3 linked regions of the Homo sapiens genome follow. The protein of the gene in region 1 purifies or fractionates together with the protein of each later gene. This does not show direct contact. Each region holds a gene or a part of one and is shown in the gene's direction. Other genes may lie near its edges.

Region 1 (7,235 bases):
ATAGAGAATGTAGAAAATTAGAAAATTTTTTGAAGGAGAAGGAAAAGACAGAGTCAAAGAGGGAGAGAGGGAGGGGAGGGGGAGGGGAAAGGAAAGGGAGAGGAGGGGAGAGAGAAGAGGGGAGAGGAGAAAAGAAAGATATCCTGTGGCTGAATTGAATTGATGATGTATTAGGCCATTCTTGCATTGCTATAAAGAAATGCCTAAGACTGGGTAATTTATAAAGAATAGATGTTTAATTGGCTCATGGTTCTGCAGGCTTACAAACATGGCACCAACATCTGTTTAGCTTCTGAGAAGGCCTCAGGGAGCTTTTACTCATGATGGAACGTGAAGCTGAAGTATGTATGTCACATGGTGAAAGCAGGAGAGAGAAAGTGGCGGTGGGAGCGGTGGGGGGGCGGGGGGGTGCCACACACTTAACCAGATCTCAGGAGACTCACTATCATGAGGACAGTACCAAGCCTTGAGAGATCTGCCCCCATGACCCAAACACCTCACACCAGGCCCAACCTCCAACACTGGGGATTATAATTCAACATGAAATTTGGCAGGGACATATATTCGAACTGTATCAGGTGATGAGGAACAAAAAAGGATTTTTAAAACAAAAAAGAATTTTCAATTCTTTGGAGTTTGAGAAAGTTTAAAGTTAATTTGAAGAAACCATCTCCTCTCAAATGTGAACCATGAAGTTACCCATATATTCATTTGAATTCTTACCCTCTTTCCACTTTAGTTAATGAGACACCTCCAGTAGACTAGTATGCTTTTAAAGCTCAATACACTTTCAGTTATTACCTAATGAAAGAATAGAAAATTGTCTGTTATAGAAATTCTTGTAATTCCTAGATTTTTGCCTCTCAAGGAGGCAGCGGATAGCTGAAATCCTCTTGTAATGTAGCTGGATAATGTGTGATCTGGGAACCTTGCACTGTTTACTGCAGAACCGGTCTACAGGATTCCTATAAACATATTAAAATACTGAGCAGTGCTGGAGCACTCATTAGATAATTGCCACTCCTTGTGTCCCTGATGTGATCTGTCGTGGAGCTCACCAGGTGAGTTCACAAACGCTCCTGTCCTACCACTATGGGGAAGTGGATTTGGGTCTGCTCAGAGGCATGATGTTGAATAGCTCTTAGGAACTTTCAAGCACCTAAGAATGCAGAGACCTTTGGTCTCTAAAACTTTGAACTTAAGGCATTTCAGAGAGAGATTGCTTCTTTCTTCACGATGTTTGTGTTGTCATTAGGCGAAACAATGAGAAGTGATTTTTTCATGATGACTACCTTAGCCTTGAGGCTCAGCCAGCCCCTCATGCTGTGTACCAATACTTAAAGGCCACTCCCTGCTGTATATTCTCAACAGATTTTCTCATTTACCCCTCAGGACTGCTCTGTAAGGTTGGTATAGTCAATCCCATTTCACAGCTAACCAAGCTCAGGCTCACAGAGCCTAAATCACTTTTCCAAGTAAGTGGCAGGATTGGAATGAGGTTCCATCCCTCACCTTCCCTAGAGGACCCTGAGCACCCCCTTTTAGAAGATGGCTTTCCAGGGTTTGAGAAATGGTCAGATTCCACTCCCCTGCTATTGTAGTCCCATGGGTTCCCACTCAACAACTCCTCTGAAGATGACAGGGGAAGTGAAATCCTGTGCTTTGTGCCATGAGATCTGGTTGTAGGGCCACATGAGAGGGCTGATCCTTAAAGTGGCAAGTGGGCTCAGGCAGAAGCTCAGGTGTTGGCCTTGGGACAGGTGAGCTGCAGAGAAGGAAAGAAACATGCACTGAATTACTGTAAGCAAATGCACTTTACACCTCATCTCCTTTAATCTTAACTGCTACCCAAGGTCATTATCACCATTATTCAAATTAGGCTGCTGCCTTTAGAGGAGTTTACGTAAATCAGGGAGACAACTTTGTTGTTTCCTGATAAGCACAAACTCTGTAATACTCTAGACTTTTATCATTTCTCTTCATTCCTCCAGGGCCCTGAATGCTCTAATCTCCCTCCAGGCTGGCAGTACCTGCTCCCCAGGTGTTTTTCAATGTTTTTTCTTTGAAATTTAAGATCTGTGTAATTTTAAAGTCAAATTTTGAAGTTTAATTGGGTTAGTATCCATGATTTGTGAAACATAGTAACAAAATGGCAACTATTTCAACAGAGAATTTAAATGAAATGTACATGAACAATAAACATACTAAAATACGCCAACCCCACAAGAACTAATAAAATGCAAATATTTTAAAATCTTGAGAATTTATAATGACAAGATGCAAAAGATAAGTACCATGATTGCACTTTTGGAGAAGACAATGTGTGTGTGTAGGTGAACGTGTTGATGTGTACCTCACCTTCAGGGACATGTCTGGAGAGTATGCACCATCCTAGGAACAGCAGACCCCTTGGGGTTAAGGAGTGGGAGTTGACCAGTGAGAGCTCAGGTTAATTTTGATTTATCAATATGCTCTTGTGTACTGTTCAAAAACTGGTATTTGGGAATAAAAGTATTCTGATGAAAATTTGAACACACAAAATACTTTGGAACAAATTGTCAAAGTTAAGGTGTACATAATGTCCATTAATTTGAAAAAGCATTCCTTATATTCTATTTTATTGTGAAAGAAGTAAATAACAAGTCCAATTGACAGAGGTTTTGTGTGTGTGTGTGGGTGTTTGTGTGGGTGTGTCCTCTAGCTCTACCACCCCAAATACAAAATCATGGATGCAACTTTAGTTCCAGCGGGGATTGGAACCAATATCAGTTTCATATATTCTGGAACATGATGGATACATGGAAATTGCTACCATTAGGTGAATAATTCCAGAAAACTGTGGCTGATACATTGGAGCTAACCTCCAACCTCCATGCCTCCCTCTTCCTGAGTCCCTGGTTTGAGATTATCAGAGCTGCGTTTCTGTCTCTGGCCACTAGGAGGCATCAGAGCTATCTCTGTTTTTGTACATTTTGCAGAGTAACATGTTTCAAAATGACTTGTTTACTTTGATTCCAGTTCTGTTTGGAAAATTCACATGTATATTAAAGCAGGTCCATTTGCTGTTGACCCCTAAATCTACATCGCATTCACTGATTTATCATCTCTTCCCTTCTCAGTGTAGGTTGAAGTGTCCACACTGTCGGAGGGGGCGGGGGCGGGGGCGGGGGAGGAGGGGTCCCTCCAGAGAGCAAGGCATTCACTCTCCATAACTCTATCCCTGTACAGGCTTCTCAGACCTTCTCACACTCTCTTTCAGTCTTCCCCTCTCCAGGACACTATAGACACAGTTCCCCAGATGCTGCTCCAGTGCCTCCGACCTCTCTCCGTCACCTTTCTACAGCCCCGTCACTGCTACCTGGTGTTTCATTTTGTGGATGCCCTGGAGCATATGTTTTTACATTTACACCGATCAGTTTTTTTCTTACCAGCATGGGGAACTGGTTTTGTGTCTTCTCGGAGGCATGATGTTGAACAGTTTTCGTGAGATTATGAAACACACAAGAATGTAGAGAACTCCATCTCTAAAACTCTGAAATCAAGGTGTATCAGGGAGATTTGCCTTCTTTATATGGATGTCTGTGTTTTCATTAGGAGAAACAATGAGTAATGATTTTTCACGATGCCTGCCTTGGCCTTGAGGTTCAGCTAACCCCTACTGCTATGTCTCAATATTTAAAGGGCCATTGAAGCCTCCCATTCCATGCCATATACCCTGGACAGGTTTTCCCATTTATGCCTGGGAATAACTCCGTGAGGATGGTATAGTCAGTCCCATTTCACAGATGACCAAGCTCAGGCTCACAGAACCTAAGTCGCCTCTTGAGGTAAGTGGCAGGATTGGAATGAGGTTCTATCCCTCACCCTCCCTAGAGGACCCTGAGAGCACCTCCCTTTTAGAAGATGCACTTCCAAGGCTTAAGAAATGGTCAGATTCCACCATTCAGATCATGGCGATGTCTTTAGGGGAGTTTGTGTAAATTAGGGAGACAACTTTGTTATTGTTTGTTCTGTATTGATGAGTATTTAGAATGCTTCTCATTTTTTCCTTTTTAAAAAGATTTCAGCAATACTGTAGCAAATAACCTCTTACCTGGCTATTTTGTACATGTGAAAAATGTTTCATCCATTACATGCTTACACATCTATCCCTTGGGGCTTGATTTCAATAATTTAAACTCCCTTATATGTGTCTGAGCATTCTCATTCCTTTAACCATCTTTATACCTGTTGTAGTTACAATATTTAAATGCATTTATAACTGAGAAGTGTGTTTCCATTTCCTTGATGTATTTGGTCCCTCATCCTGCCCCCATACACAGACACACACAGAGCCACTTTTACCTTTTTCTTTTGCAAATTAAAAAAAAATTCTTATTCAGTTTTTTCTACATTGAAATTTTGTCAAACGATAGGTGATAAAAGTATATTTAGATAGTTGCATTTGCATTCCTTATATATTAGTGAGCTAGAATGCATTTTCTTATGATTATTGGCCATTTGCATTTCATCATCCATGAACCATTTATATATTTTGTCAGTTTTGCTGTTTTGTTATAGGATCTGTACGTGTGTTAAATCTAAAACCCTTCATTGATCTATGCATGCGTTATTTCAACACATCTTTCTTGGCTGAATATTATTTATGAGACACTCTAGAAAAATCCATATCCTAGATGTTTCTTCTGAGATCTTGGCTCTTATATTTATGGGAGATGTCCCCCTGCAGCAAAAAATGTGTTAGTGCCCATGCAAACATGCGTGGCTTGTCAAGGATCACATGCACAGACAGTTCACACTTACTCCTAAACCCGGCATGGCCACAGAGTAGAAAGGATGTGTGGGGCATTATATAAGGAGAGCACTGGCTCAGGATTGTGATTTCTGTGATCTCTATACTAACGGCAAGATTTTTAAAAATTACGTAACATTTCTGAGTTTGCCTTTTCTCATTTGTAAAATGAAAACAATCATAGCTACCAAAGACAATTGTTCTGAGAAGTAAAAGAACAAATTATTTTAAGCGTCATACACAGCGTAGGGTACATACGGTACTCAACACATCTTAGTCTGCTTCCTATCTCATACCCGTCCTTCCTTTAAAGGAGATTCCTTTGACATAATCCAAAAGGCATGGTTCCATAACGATCACATGAAAGTTTTAAGGGAAATGTATAGGTTTCCATGATGAATTAACTGCTGTGTCACTACTCTGTGCTGGGTAAGAAAAAGGAAAACAATCGCTGAACCGGTTTCCCAGGGTTTGTAAAAGAAAACCATCAAAGCCACCACCTCATTTCACTTTATTTCGTAGACTTCCCCATCCCATTTTTTATGTTCTATGCTAATTTCTCAAGAAAAATAGGCCCGGCACCGCCTCTGCGCACAACCTTGCTGGTCTGGCCCAGGCGGGGGGCGGGGCCAGCACGATGAGCGCCCCGGGCAGCCCCGACCAGGCCTACGACTTCCTGCTCAAGTTCCTGCTGGTGGGCGACAGGGACGTAGGCAAGAGTGAGATCCTGGAGAGCCTGCAGGACGGCACGGCCGAGTCCCCGTACAGTCACCTGGGGGGAATCGACTACAAGACGACCACCATCCTGCTGGACGGCCAGCGGGTGAAGCTGAAGCTCTGGGATACGTCGGGGCAGGGAAGATTTTGTACCATATTCCGCTCCTACTCTCGTGGTGCACAAGGAGTGATCCTGGTCTACGACATTGCAAACCGCTGGTCTTTCGAGGGTATGGATCGATGGATTAAGAAGATTGAGGAACATGCCCCTGGTGTCCCTAAAATCCTGGTGGGGAATCGCCTACATCTGGCATTCAAGAGGCAGGTGCCCAGGGAGCAGGCCCAGGCCTACGCCGAGCGCCTGGGCGTGACCTTCTTTGAGGTCAGCCCTCTGTGCAATTTCAACATCATAGAGTCTTTCACGGAGCTGGCCAGGATAGTGCTGCTGCGGCACAGGTTGAACTGGCTCGGGAGGCCGAGCAAGGTACTGAGCTTGCAAGACCTCTGCTGCCGCACCATCGTGTCCTGCACACCTGTGCATCTGGTGGACAAGCTCCCGCTCCCCATTGCCTTAAGAAGCCACCTCAAGTCCTTCTCCATGGCTAAGGGCCTGAATGCCAGGATGATGCGAGGCCTCTCCTACTCCCTCACCACCAGCTCCACTCACAAAAGGAGCAGCCTCTGCAAAGTGAAGATCGTCTGCCCACCCCAGAGCCCACCCAAAAACTGCACCAGAAACAGCTGCAAAATTTCTTAAGGAAGGCACCAAAAGGAAACAAGCTGGAATCGCTCCAGGAAAAACTCTGAATGGTTACACCTGGAAGAGGGAAGATGCATTCTAGATTCAAAGAAATACGTTTTCAGTTTCTCATGGGAACAATGCTGCTTGGGAATGTGTGTGATGCCTTCTGTCAATAAAAGCACTTTACGCAGTTTGACTTTGAATTTCTACGTGGATGTGCATGTGTTTATAAAGGGGAAATTAGTACTCTGCTTAACTCTTGATAACATGAAATTTTGAATGTTACTTATATCATAATCACACTGCATCTTTTTCCTTAAAATAACCGCTTTTGTAAGAATGGTGATATGACAGTGATGAGTATAAATTCAAGGGAATTTGAGATGCAATGATAGTGAGATCATTCCGAGTCATTGATATTACTAGAGGGGACTTTTTGTAAACCTCCTTTTTGATGTCAAAGCACCAATTTATAAAACACTGCAGATGCATATAGAGATTATACGTAACAGATCTGTCCAGTTTGTGCACGAAATGGATTTGATAAAGTTTTTGCTATGTTATTTTACTACATTTGGAGATTAATAAGTGATTTATATGTATGTTTTTCTGTAAATCTACTTTTTTGTACAAGATGTTCTACAAGATATGAAGCTAAGGGAGGAAAACGCCAAAGATATCTCTAGTTATGTTGAACATAGCCAACATGGTTTCAATGGGTCAGTAAGAAAAAAGCCATTTCAGTAAGGAATGAAATAAGTACTTATTTATGAAAATGTTTCTTAACAATAAAAAAGTATATATTTTTATCTTTTGGTAAAACGAAAAGAAAAAGAAAGAAAAATATGTATAATGTAACCCTGCAAGATTAGGCTTTGCAGAAAAACAATGCAATAGAACACGGGGGGCCAGGCCCATTATAAGGCCTTAGGTGAGTAATTTCCCCTGTGCTGGCCAGTTTTGGTTAACACCTCTCAGATCGAT
Region 2 (6,927 bases), on another chromosome or scaffold:
TTCTGTTTCCACTAATTTGCCCTTCAAGTAGGTCTGTTCTGCTTCTCAACTAATGAATTTTCAATATCAGAAATGACTTTTTAAATTTCTAAGGTTTCTCACTGATTATTTGTTGTGGATGCAATATCCTTTCAAGACTTGCTGATTAAAATTAAATTATTTAACATTTATCTTGTTCCTTTTATTAACTTAGTTTCCTCTGATATTATTTCCTTCTATTAGTTGGGTTTGGTGCTTCTCTTTCATGGTATTGGTTCCCCTCTCCCCATAAGATATTTGGTGGTTGTCCTATCATCCCTTAATGTGGGAATGGGCTTGTCTCCTCTTTCTGCTTATCATAGCCTATCTTCAGGGGCTGTGAAGAAGGGTCAGGACATGCTATCCCAAGAGAGTGAATGGTTTCTGTCATTTCTTGGGGTCACTAGATCCCTGAGCTCTGCCCCTTGGGTCCCAGGATCCCCATTAACTTTTTTTTTAAGTCCTGCAGGCAAACACCTGATATTTAATGTGAGCAGGACAGAGGAGGCTCCTAAGTGAATTATTCTGTCTCAGGGCCCCTCCTCCTCTTGTATCCTTTAACTATTGCTTGCAACTTCCCTAAACTATTGCTCCTCCTGAATCTGTTTTGGTTTCCTCTGATTTTGTTTCTCTGTGAATCAGATCTTGCATCTTTTCTGTATCTCTGGATTTCTTGAACATTGTTGGAACACTGATCCCCTTTTCCTTATTTTCCTGTGCTTTTAGATGCCTGTTTCAGACATATCTTCTAATGAAATTTGGGGTAGAAGAGAAGCTAAATGCGTGTATTCAATCCACCATCTCCATCCAATCTTTACTTTTTAATTTATTTATCATCTCTACTTATTATTAAACAATACAAGCTTATTGTGAAAAACTCAAAGACTACAGAAATGGAAAGTGAAAGTTCCCTCTTATGTTAGATGATTCTAACATAAGTCTCAACTTATATCTTCTTGGCCTCACCTGTTGGTTTCAGCTAGACCTGAGTAGACAGTTCTGTGAAGGTTTACCCCCCACTCTCTGGCTGTCAACATCTATTCTCAAATGCACACCTTCTCTTCTGGCCCCAGAACTCTTCCAAATCTGCAGACTGCCTATGTGGAGCTTGCTGGGTAGCTCGGAAGTGTAGGTTTTCAACATGGGTGGGAGACCAGTGGGGGCAGTCCTTTGTCCAACCAGGATGAGGGTTAATCTCCTATCCTTCACATAGACAATTCCAAGAGGTATTCTATACTCTTCTGAGGAGGTCCCTCCAGACGTGATCCCTATTGCCCACAATGATGACCTTGATAACGAACATATGTATGTGTTTCCTTCTCCCTTCTTTTTTTTTTTTTTTTTTTGAAACAGAGTCTTGCTTTGTCACCCAGGTGGGAGTGCAGTGGCGTGATCTTGGCTCACTGCAGCCTATGCCTCCCAGGTTCAAGTGATTCTCCTGCCTCAGCTTCCCAAGTAGCTGGGATTACAGGTGCGCACCACCACACCCAGCTAATTTTTGTGTTTTTAGTAGAGATAGGGTTTTGCCATGTTGGCCAGGCTTGTCTTGAACTCCTGACCTCAAGTGATCCGCCTGCCTCGGCCTCCCAAAGTACTGGGATTACAGGTGTGAGTCACCATGCCCAACCTTTCTCCCTTCTTTTATTCTCCCAATTTCTCATTCCTGGCCACAGAGATCTGTTCCCCTTTCCCTATTATTTGACAATGCCCTTTCCTCACTGCAAGCCTAAATTTCCTCTCTTCCTCAGTTCTGATTTATCATTTCACTGTAACTCTATTAGCTGTAAAGCATTTGGGGATGCTGTCAGGATAACATGCTCTGTAGCAAATGAGGTTGTATTGAATTATTTAGCTTTCAGCTAAAGTGGAGATAACTAAAGCAGCTGAGCTGGTTTGTAAAATGTTGGGGTAATCTGTCTGCTGATTTGGAGTTTTATCATATTAATTTTTTCTTATGGTTGAAAATTATAAATTTTAAGGCTACAAAGAAAAATATGTATGCAACTATTCAGTTCAGTGCCACAGACCTATAGCTAAGGAATTATCTGGCTTGCATAGTATATAATTACGTAGCTGCAGAACCACCATTCTAGAGAACCATGAATTTATCTAATAAGTTTATTCATACAAGCTTTTAAAAAACCATAAATACATAATTTCCCTCCATTTTTTTCTAACAAAAATAGATGAAGGATTTCTTCTTGAGATATATAATAGTCTCAGCTTTTGAAGTTGGCCTGTTTTTCTTGAGCTTTCCTTGCCAGAATTTGACTTTTAAACATTTTTTTTCACAAAACAGAACTTTCTCTTTTTAACTCAGTAATAGAAAAATGCATTCTTAAATGTTGTCAACAAAGGGGAGGAGGGGATCACTGCGAATCTATCGATGACCATGAATGTTTTTGTATCCTCTTTCCCATATTACTAGTGTCTCTTGGAAAATTGAGCTGTAATAAGGATCCAGCCAAGAGGAGGGTGGAGTGAAGAATTCTGTGGCTCTGTAATACCTGGGGCGTTTGTCCCACTCAGCACATCTCAGTGTCTAAATACCCACCCTCAAGAAGTGGGACTGCAGCAGGAAGTGAAGTATCTTTGCATATGTTCAATATATAAACTAAACTCGAACATCTGGCAAACACCCCTTTCCTGGGTGAATTCTGGAAAACAGCACAATTATAATCCCAAGCAAATAACTCAGGAGTAAGACTGTTCCCTTGTTAAGAACACCAGGCAGCATCAGTAAAAGTTAAAACTTCTTCTGCATCTATGCGCTTTTAATCTCCACGGCCATTTCCATAATACCTGAGATTACCTGCGTTGATAGCTGGTGAGAAATCATCCCAGGCACCGCAGGTGGAGAAAAGAGATGAAAGCTACCTCAAGGCGTACACGTAAACCTTACTGAACAATGACCTTGATCGTTAGAAAGTCAAGAAAATGTACTGCCTTGCAAGCTGCCGGTGTTCTATTGAGTTTCTCTCCGGGGGCAACTCGGAGATGCCTTTTTGGCACCATCGGTTCTAGTATTTCCTCTGGCCTGCTGCGCCGCGCCTCATCCAGGCTTGTAGTGAGGCACCCCCACTCGCCCGGAGACCCGGGCCGGCCAGGAGGTGCCAGTGGGCAGGTGTGGCAGCCTGCCTGTTGATTACAGTCCCTACAATGTGCGAGCTCCTTGGGACTGCAGGCTGCGCGCCGCCAGCTTTGCCTGGTTCGTCCTGATTACACTAGGTTTTCGGGCAGAAACAGCGACACTGAGCTCGGGCTGGGGGTGGGGCCCTCGGGCCCAGTGCCCGCCCCCTGCCCTCCCACCGCCAGCCGAGAGAAGCCCGCCCGGGAGCGCGCTTTCTAATGCACCAGCCCCCGGGAACAATCTGTCCCTCCCAAACCCGCCACGGCGGGGGTTCACCTCCCGGGTACCCGCCGCGCCCACCCTATGGCCTAAATGTCTTTTCATATATTTTAAAAACTGAACTGTGTGCAGTGGGGATGCAGGGCGGGAAAGGCTGGAGGGCTCATTTTCGCCACCAGGCTTGCCTCTCCGGGCGCACGAATTAGGCCCGAGCTAGAGTCCAACCCCCTTCCCGCCTCAGGGGGCTCGGGGTGGCGCGGGGTTAGGGGCAATGAACGACGATGGAGGCGCCCCAGGCTCAGCGGCGGGCGGGGAGGCAGAGGCGGGTTCCAGGAGCCGGGCTGAGGCCCGGCAGGTGCCCCCAGGCGCGGAGGCTGATTGGCAGGTGCGTGAGTGGGTGGGGAAGGCGGGGGCTGGGCTTGGCGCTGCGGGAGGCTGCGGCCCCGCCTCCCCGCCCCCGCCGCGGGACTATCTGGTCCCGGCAGCAGCGATGTCCCCCGGCAGGAATGTCCCTCCTCAGATAATGTTATTTATATCTCTGGGCGGGTCCGCGGCTCGGCAGCACCAGGCGCCCGGCGGCCGCTGTGCCAGGAGCCCCGCGCTGCCCTCCTCCCCCTGCGCCGCCGCCGCCGCCACCCCCGGGCTCGGGGTGGCCCCCGCTTCAGTCCCAGGGCAGGTGAGTCCCAGGAGGGCCCGGCGGCCAAGGGAGCTGGGTGCGGGTGCGCAAGGCTGGGACGCGCGGCGCCAGCTCAAAGGAGCGCTGGGCCCAGGGGGCGCCTGACGCGCAGGGCCCAGAGGACCGGGTGGGAGTCCAGCCCCGGTTGTCGGGCGTGGGGTGGGAGGGGTGCGGGGCCCGGGAAGCCCGGCAGCTGCGGCAAAGATCATCCCGGGACGCGGGAACGCGCGCGGGCGTCCGAGGCACTTGGTGCTAGCTTTGGAGAGCGGGATCCCGGAGAGTCCGTCACCCCGGGGCGCAGGGAGAGGGTGACGGGGGTGCGTGTTCTCGTCCGCCTTCTCCAGGACCCCGGCCTGGGAGCGAAGGGGATTGCGCCTCTAGCCCGTCCGACCGCAGCGCTGCTCTCTGCCTTTTTTTGTCCGGCTTCTCAGCCTTGTGGCCGCTCATATCCCTCTTCTGGGGAACTTGGCTGCGCTCTCCTCGGGCCACCCAGCGCCCAGGCAGGAGGGACAGGTGAGGGCAGCAGAGGGGGCCGGGCCTCCGGGTGCTGGGAGCCACCCAGAGAGTGACCCCGTGTAGACCGAGGGAGGAAAGATCCTAGTGCCCCAAGCCATACTTCAAGGACCCCTAGTCTTCCTCTCCCAAAGAGTTCCTCTCTTCCTCTAAGCTTCTCCGGGCTACTCTACCCTCACCCTCCTCTCCAGTTTCCCCTCTTCCTCTAACTTGGTCTTGAGAAATAGCAGAAAGTGGGAGAAATAACAGAAGCTGTAAAACAATCCCCAACTCCCACCAACTCATCCGTACTTCCCAGGCTGGGGAAGCAGCTGCGGGGCTGGAGTGCTGTTTCCCTGACAACGAGCTTCAGGTAGGGCCTTGAGTTACAGCCTATTAATATCCAAACCACTGTTTTCAGTGAGCAATTAGAGGCGCCAGCCAGGAGTAAGGAAAATGAAAAGAAGCCACTGTTTTTTGTACATCTAAATTTTAGATGCATCAGATTGGGGGGTGGGGTGGGGGGATATAGTGACAGCCTTTTTGTACTGAGAATTTCTGTGGGGAGAGACTAGGCTGTCACCTCCAGGTAGGAGGCAGTCATGCAAAACCCCTGCCTGGAGGTAGTCACGATCCGTATTTTAGTTTCTAAGGGAAGAGATTCAGGCGGCTCCCTAATGAGAGGAGTCTGCAAATCAAAGATTTTTAGGCACAGCTCAACTGTCCACTGTCCTATCCTTAGCTTCACAGATGGCTCTGAATTTTATTCTAGAATTCCCTCTTCGCCCACCCCTTCCCCCACTATAACCCAAGGCAGGTCATTTCTTATTTTAGGATTCAGCTTTTATTCTTTTGCTCTGAGTCCCAGGTTCCAAAATGCAATTGAAAACACCTTTTTTTTTCTAAGTGCAAAATGATTGTTAATGTATGCTGAATGTCCAGCACCTGACACAGCTAGGCCTGTGCTTGCCTGGAGGCTTGCAGGCTAGCCAGGAAAGGGAATGTTAAACTTACATTGAAGAAGAGCCCACCAGCCTTGAAACCCACTAACTCCAGAGGTGGGTCATTTATAAAGAATTTTATCAAAAACTCTAGAGTAAAGCACCATTGAAAGACATAAACGCTCATGAAAATGTGGCTTTCAGACCCCTTAGCTGTTGCTCTTAGCTTTATCAGTGCCCCAGTGGCAATGATGGGGATGAGCCAGTCCTATTGATCTTGAGTTCTGGGAAGACTCAGAGTCCACTCATGGAATTGTAAGCACCCAAGGACTCCCAGGCATCCAGGATGGGCCTTGTAGCACAGGCGTATCAAGTTCTCCTGAGCGGCTTGCCCAGAAGAGAGTTGGGATACCACCTTTGGCTCTGATCAATGCTTCTTCCAAGTGTTCTGAAGGTGTCCTATAGCAGAACGCCTGCTAGATGACTAGTTTTGGGGGTGAAGGTATGACAGGAGCAAGACTCCTACCTGGGATCACATTTGGCAAAATAAAAATGAGTATTTTAGGCAAGCTAGGTGTGAATGACAGTTTTGAACTAAAGTCAAAATTTGACAGGTCTGCTGCAGCTCTGGAAACAAACTGTTTTTGGTAAATAATAATAGCTTTTATTCTGTCTTTTATGTTGTTGTACCCAGTACCTGGATGGTAGTGGAACCTCAGTTAACCTTTGTTGAATGAATGAGGAAACCAACAAATGAATGCTCAGCGTTTTCTCTATATTATCCAATTTAATTGTCATGGTAACTCTATAAGGTAGCTCATATCAACATTTTACAAGTAAGGAAACAGGTTCAGGAAGATTAAATAACTTGCCTCATATTACCCAGCTAATGAGAGATGGGTCCAGGATTCAAACTCAGTTTGTTTGGTTCTACCTTCTTTTTAAGGTTAGACACTCAGCAGGGAATATAAAGTACAAGTTGGGAAGATTTGACTGTTTGTCTTCTAGCTTCATAATCTTCATTCCCAGGACCTCAGGTAATAGTTCTGCTTATATCAGAGGAGCTTAAAAAATATTATCTGAAGATAATATTGGGCATTTATTTGCTCAGAGGTTCTTAGCCTTACCCATTATTTTCAGGTCATTGTTTCAAGGACAGAACTATAATTTTGGCAGGAGTCAAAGCATGGATTTTTTTTTTTTTTTTTAAAGAACAGATTTTCCTTTCAGTCCTGGAAGTGGCCAGGAGGGCTTGATGATACATAGGGACAGTGTGATAGGACAGAGGATGGCTATAAAAAATTCATGAGGCAAACACTATTGGAGAGGGAAGGGATTCTGGAGGTCACTGAACCCAGCCTTCCATGTGCATACTTACTGGCTTAAAGGCAAGACCTAACTGAATGTACCTGATCATTGATGTGTAGCTATGGCACCCACACTTCTTATTA
Region 3 (7,000 bases), on another chromosome or scaffold:
GCTGTGTGCCAACCTTATGTCTTTTACTGAATGAGTGTAAGTTCCTCAGTTGCCTGTTTAGTACATAGCATTGTATCTTGCACATAATAGGTTCTCGGTAAATATTTGCTTCAAAAATCTTTTTTCTTTGAGATGGAGTCTCGCCCACTTCGCGCAGGCTGGAGTGCAGTGGCGCGATCTCGGCTCACTACAACCTCCGCCTCCCGGGTTCAAGCAACTCTCCTTCCTCAGCCTCCCGAGTAGCTGGGATTACAGGCATGTGCTACTACGCCTGGCTAATTTTCATATTTTTAGTAGAGACGGAGTTTCACCATGTTGGTCAGGCTGGTCTCGAACTTCTGACCTCAGGTGATCCACCTGCCTCAGTCTCCCAGAGTGCTAGGGTTACAGGCATGAGCCACTGCGCCAAAAAAAAAAAAAAAAAAAATCTTAGTTGGCCTTGTCTGGTTATTGTAATGCAAAGTTTTTTTTTTTTTTTTTTTTTTTTTAAGGGAAATGGGTATCTCCTTATGTTGCCCGGGCTGGCCTTGAACTCCTAGGCTCAAGCAGTCCTCCAGTCTCAGCCTCCTGAGTAACTGGGACTGCGTTTTTTTGTTTTATTTTGTTTTTAATTTGGTCTTGAAGTGGAGTTATATAGGGTGGGGGGAGGGAGGATGGAGTATGACTTGAGGTGTGGGTTAGGTTCTGAAGCGAGCCTAGATGACAAAATAGCTTACAAGCAAAGCTACCCTTGAAATCTCAGGGAGGCAGCATGTTAATTGTAGGAATACCAGTGTTGCAGAACTCTGACATGGCCAGTGTGATATTGTAAAATACATATTTGGCCTTCATCCCTGTCTCCTGTGGCATATGACTCCTATAATCCTTGAAATCTCCAAAATGATTAGTGTCTTTTTATATGCTAAGGAGCTGACTGATGGCTGGCAGCCCCTAAGTAACTTTAGCATGGGGGCTGGTCACTTGAAAGACCCAGGCAGGATTAGAGGGTTGGGACCTTCAACCAATGTCCAACCTCTGGGGAGAGGAGAAGGCAGACGAGCTGATGACCACCAGCGTCACTGGTTTAATTAGTCATGTCTAAGTAATGAAGCTTCCATAAAAATCCAAAAGACTGGGATTGGGGAGCTTCTGGATAGGTGGACATGAGAGGTTCCTGGATGATGGTGCCCCAGAGAGTGCATGGAAGCTCTGTGCCCTTCCCACATGCCTTGCCCTATGCATTGCTTCATCTGTATCCTTTGTAATATGCTTTTATAATAAACCAGTATATGTAAGTAAAGTGTTCCTCTAAGTTCCTCTAAGTTCTGTGAATTGGTCTAGCAAATTAATAGAACCTAAGGAGGGGGTCATGGGAACCCTGATTAATAGCCAGTTGGTTAGAACTACAGGTAAAACAACCTGATTCTTGTGGTTGGTATCTAAAATGGAGGCTAGTCTTGTGGGACTCACCCCTCAACCTATGGGATCTGACGCGGTCTCCATCCAGGTAGGTAGTGTCAGAATTGAACTGAATTAGAGGACACCCAGCTGGTTGGTGTCTGCTACAGAATTGGTTGGTTGCTTGGTGTGTGGGGACATATCCCTCACAGAATTATACTGTGTTGATTGTTGAGTGAGAGAATAGCAAAAATGCTTTGGTTTGGTTTGGGTTTTTTTTTTCTCTATATCCTCAGGCAAGTTTTATTTCGGCTTTGGAAAAAACTGCTGTTTTTCTTCCTGTGAGCCCCAGATGAAGTTGTTGGTTTGTATTTAGGAGTCACAATATGTAAAAAATACAATGAATACAATCATTCATGCATAGTGAGGGAAGTATTTATATTCAGAGAGGTGCATGTGAATGAGGATCAGCTAAGGGAACCGATATTTAAATTAGTTATCTTTCTTCTAGTGTGTATAGGTGAATTCAAGATAAATGCACATTTGAGACCCTGCCCTTGTGCTATGGAAAGATAAATAAATCAATACTTTTTTTTTAACTTCTTTTTTTTCCCCCTCGCCAGGCAAGGTCGGTCTTGTGCTGTTGCCCAGGCTGTAGTGCAATGGCCCTCATAGCTCACTGTAGCCTGGAACTCCTTGGCTGAAGCCTTCCTCCCACTTCAGCCTCCTAAGTAGTGCACCATCACACCTGGCTAATTTTTAAATATTTTTGTAGAGAGAGAGTCTCACTGTGTTGCCCAGGCTGGTCTTAAATTCCTGGCCTTAAGTGATGCTCCCAGCTTGGCCTCCCACAGCTTTGGGACTGCAGGCATGAGCCACTGTGCCTAGCCTGTTTGTCTGTTTGTTTGTTTGTTTGTTTTTAATAGAGTTGGGGTCTCACCATCTTGCCCAGGCAGGTCTTGAACTCCTGGGCTCAAACAATCCTGCCTTGGCCTCCCAAAGTGCTCAGATTGCAGGTGTGAGCTAGTGCACCAGGCCTTAATTTCTTTTCTTTTTTTTTTTTCTTTTTCTGAGACGGAGTCTTGCTCTATTGCCCAGGCTGGAGTGCAGCGGCGTGAAATCTCAGTTCACTGCAACCTTCGCCTCCTGGGTTCAAGCGATTCTCCTGCCTCAGCCTCCCAGGTAGCTGGCATTACAGGCACATGTCACCACAGCCAGCTAATTTTTGTATTTTTAGTAGAAATGGGGTTTCACCCTGTTGGCCAGGCTGGTCTTGAACTCCTGACCTCAAGCGATCCTCCTGCCTCAGCCTCCCAAAGTGCTAGGATTACAGGTGTGAGCCACCATGCCTGGCTGAATTTCTTATTGTATGTGTTTCATAGATGCCTGAAAGATTATTGCAAAGCTGAATTTTTTATTGTATGTGTTTCATAGATGCCTGAAAGGTTATTGCAAATTGCTCCTTATGATAAACATTTAAAATATGGATTAAATTTCTTTTTCTGTGGTTTAGTTTTTAGATTCTTTTAGTCTCCTTTGCTACCGGAATATGTTAATTAAGCTTTGGTGTTAGAAGATTGACTTCACTTTGCCTAGTAATAAATACTAACAGCGGGCTCTCTGTTAGTAGTTGTTGTTCTCTAAATAAATTTTATGATATAGGAAAAGTCAGCTAAATTTTTAAAAATCTAAATAACTGTATCTTGGTAGAAGTGCCTTCTGGCCAGAAATAAGTCTTTATTTGAAATATAGATGAGTTAGCCAGATGGCAAATTCCTCTTAGTTGCTGTCCTGCATTTTGAAGTACAGTGTGACTTGAACATCAGAGTAAAAAATGTTGGAAAGCAATAATCTATATTTACTCACAAAAGGAAATGGATTGACCTATTGCTTTTGCTACTGAAAGTGAAGCCTTAAAACAACAGAACACAGAAACCTGATTCTGGTGTGTTTTAACATGTACAATCTAATTAATTTTAGAATTAGAAGGATATGGTGGCCAGTGATGTAAACACTCAAGTAGTTTGCCATCACATAATTCAATTCCATAGGAAACCAGATCTCATTACTTTGTGTCATGGCACTAGCTAAATGGAGTCATTTTTCAAGTTAGGAATAGCAATTATTTGGGGAGCAACAATGTAAGTTTTGTATTTTAAAACATGTGTAGTGTGCTATGTAAGAACTGAGCCCATTTTGTCCCACCACCCTGGAAATTAAATGGGACGGTCTCCAATGTAAACCCAGTAGTTCAGTGTTACCAGTTACTTTGGCTTGAAATATAAGAACTTTGTTTTCTTGACGGTCAGGCAGATTTGAAAACCACGTTCTTTATTTGTGCCAATTTGGACTCTAAGTTTGGTGGACAAAGTGAATTTTGAAATGGTTTTAGTTTTCCATGAATTCCCTATTTGAAGAAATTGAATAAATCCTTTAAAAAATAATGTAATGTTTAGTTTGATAATTAAACTTGAGTCACTTTGGAAAACGTGAGTAAAGGAAAGCTGACAGCATTTGTTTACTCTTTCTAAAGTGGAACACAGTAAGGACAAAGTAAGCATTCCTAATGTAAGTCCTCTGCATTCCTACAGGGCTCTTCACAGTTAGAGCCCGTATCCCTGATATCCCTGGGCTGTTTGTCTTTTGATTTGTTTTTAATTACCCTAGCAAACAAAAGGGAAAAAGAAGAGACTTGTGAAAATTTACCTAGACAATAGGAATTAGAAGTCAACACAATCTAATTTTCTAGCTTCTTTGTCTACTTCCAGCAGGTCAGTAAGTTACAGGTACTTATCACCTCTTTCTTGCAGAATAAACAGCCATTGGACTCTTCAAACAAAAACGCTGTCTCCATCAAGTACTGCTTTCGCAGGATAAGTGACCATTTTTAATCAGTTGAAATTAACGGAAAGTAGCAGTTATTTTTGAAAGATGACATCAATTATATAATATAGTAAAGAGATTTAATTTTTAGTCCTTTGTTTCTTACTGCACAAATTGTATGGCGTTTGAATAGAATTCCCATGATACTGACACTTCAGCAAATACTTGCTTGATGGCTACCAATCTCTATAACTTACATTGCACAGTACCTAGGAATATTCATGTGAGTTCATTCCTCCCTGCTCAGATTCTTCAGCTCCTCGTGGTTGGTTTATTCAGTAAGTATTTGAATACCTAATATATGCCAGACACTGTGCTAATAATAATAAGCACTGTGGAGACAAAGAGCTGTTGGAACAGTCACAGATGATAAAACACAAAGAATAAGGGCTGTAGTAGAGTTATGAATGATCATAGCAGGAACACAAAGGAAGGAAATACATATTAACTACTCTAGGAGGTCTTGGAAAGCTTCATAAAGGAGATGGTCTTTAGTCTGATTCTGGGCGGTTGGAGCAGCAGTTTGCATCGGGTGAAAAGAAAGCAAGGGCATTCCTGGCAGAGGGAACAGCCTGAGCAAAGCCATGCAGAGAATGAAGACCTACAGAAGAAAATGCTAATTTGAAAAAAGATGCATAAAGCAGTCTATGTTTTAGTCTAGTCTTTTTAAACTTACAGAAATTTATTACTATGTGTGTCCATCTAACTTGGCTTATTTTCTTTATTTGGGGATCAAGGGAATGCCAGAATTATGATATTAGTTTTATTACTAATTAATTAATTTATTTATTGAGACAGGGTCTCACTCTGTTGCCCAGGCTAGAGCGCAGTGGTGCGATCATGGGTCACTGCAGCCTTAGCCTCCTGGAGTAAATGATCCTCCCACCTCAGCCTGTGAGTAGCTGGGACTACAGGCACACATCACCATGCCTGGCTAGTTTTTTAAATTTTTTGTAGAGATGGGGGGTCTCACTTTGTTGCCCAGGCTGGTCCTCCTGCCTTGGCCTCCCAAAGTGTTGGGATTATAGGCATGAGCCACCATGCCCAGCCTGAATTAAGATATTAGTTTTAAAGAGCAGACTTTTGTAAGTGTGCATTAGTTTTGACAGTGTGACTGTGTTTTCAGGACACCAACCCACTGAGAGCTGATGAGAAATACATTTCTTGTATTTTTCTTTCCCCTGCAACGCTTGCCTTTAAATTTTTTTTTTAAATATGCATTTACTTTATTTCTTATTTTCATTAACCAACTGATTTCTGGTTTTGTCCCTGTGTATAAAAGATTGTAGGCCGGGCACAGTGGCTCATGCCTATAACCCCAGCACTTTGGCAGGCTGAGGTGGGCAGATTGTATTGCTTGAGTCCAGGAGTTTGAGACCAGCCTGGGCAACATGGTGAAACCCTGTTTCACGAAAAAAAAAAAAAAAAAAATTAGCCAGGTGTAGTGGTGCATGCCTGTAGTCCCAGCTATTCGGGAGGCTGAGGCATGAGAACTGCTTGAGCCCAGGAGGCTCTCTGAATTCTTATTTAGGTAGAAATGTAAAATTCTAGGGTTTGTTTTTATTGTTGTTGTTGTTGTTTTTGGCATATTGGAAGATTTTTAAATTTTCTCTTTTAAAAATATAGGCCGGGTGCAGTGGCTCACACCTGTAATCCCAACACTTTGGGAGGCCAAGGCCGGTGGATCACCTGAGGTCAGGAGTTCGAGACCAGCCTGGCCAACATAATGAAAGCCCATCTTTACTAAAAATACAAAAATTAGCCGGGCATGGTAGCACACACCTGTAATCCCAGCTACTCAGGAGGCTGAGGCAGGAGAATCGCTTGAATCTGGGAAGCGGAGGTTGCAGTGAGCCAAGATCGTGCCACTGCACTCCGGCCTGGGCGGCAGAGCGAGACTCTGTCTTAAAAAAAAAAAATTATATATATATAACAAGAATGAAGAGAGACATTTACTGGGACACCAATGGCATTGCCGTATCCTAGTATTTATTTCCCAGGTTTAAATCATATCTAATCTGATAAATTCATTTCCTTCAGACATGATTATTTTTCTCCATCTTATAAAATTAAAGTAACTAGGAATGTTTGGCTCAGAAAAGCAACAAATTAGGAGGAACATGGGAATTGTCTTCAAACAACTGAAGTATGGTCATGTTAGAAAAGATTTGATTCTTTTTGTATAGTCCCAGTGGATTGAACCTATGTATTGAATTTATAGTAAAACAGATTTCAGTTCAGTTTAAGGAAGAACTATCCTAACAGTCAAATCTGCTTAGAGAGGGAGTTGGCTGCCTAGGAAGGGAATGCAGTGGTCCCTCTTGAAGTTTTAATATATGAGTTGGATGACCTTCTCCTGGGTGTGTATGGTAAATTCAGATGTCGAGTGGATTATCATATTAGGTGGGCTATAAGGACTATCCCACCCTGAATTATTTACTAGGAAAAATGGGTGATGGAAAGAAACCAGATGATTAATACAGGATGAGAAAGGAGACACGGTTAATAGGGGATAAGAAAGGGGGAAATTGAGGGTTCGGAATGTCTCTCCCAACCATTAGAGCCCTAGAAAGTTCACGTTTTCTCTGCCAGAGACATTTAAGAAATTGTTGGCTCTGGTTTCATAAGAGGTTGTTCTGTAGAACTTGAGGAATTTTTGGCATTTTCACAGAGACTGAACAGTTCTGCTTCAGTAATGAGCCTCTGGCTGGAGTCATTGAGTGCTGCTAAATCAGAAGTG

The links.
Region 2: the proteins of RAB40AL (region 1) and SPTB purify together in Homo sapiens (affinity purification with mass spectrometry; 3 studies listed by BioGRID and IntAct, with this or other methods). This does not show direct contact.
Region 3: the proteins of RAB40AL (region 1) and PSME3IP1 purify together in Homo sapiens (affinity purification with mass spectrometry; 3 studies listed by BioGRID and IntAct, with this or other methods). This does not show direct contact.

Annotation. Positions count from the first base shown.
Region 1 is NC_000023.11:102,931,890-102,939,124, forward strand, and holds RAB40AL (ras-related protein Rab-40A-like), read left to right. Parts: upstream 1-5,382; 5' UTR 5,383-5,429; coding exon 5,430-6,266; 3' UTR 6,267-6,411; downstream 6,412-7,235. UniProt on the Homo sapiens protein: May act as substrate-recognition component of the ECS(RAB40) E3 ubiquitin ligase complex which mediates the ubiquitination and subsequent proteasomal degradation of target proteins.
Region 2 is NC_000014.9:64,876,908-64,883,834, reverse strand, and holds the start of SPTB (spectrin beta chain, erythrocytic), read left to right. Parts: upstream 1-3,927; 5' UTR 3,928-4,043; intron 4,044-4,387; exon of another isoform or gene 4,388-4,556; intron 4,557-6,927.
Region 3 is NC_000016.10:57,176,040-57,183,039, reverse strand, and holds part of PSME3IP1 (PSME3-interacting protein), read left to right. Parts: intron 1-489; exon of another isoform or gene 490-1,423; coding exon of another isoform or gene 1,424-1,486; intron 1,487-4,187; exon of another isoform or gene 4,188-4,538; intron 4,539-5,886; exon of another isoform or gene 5,887-7,000. UniProt on the Homo sapiens protein: Promotes the association of the proteasome activator complex subunit PSME3 with the 20S proteasome and regulates its activity.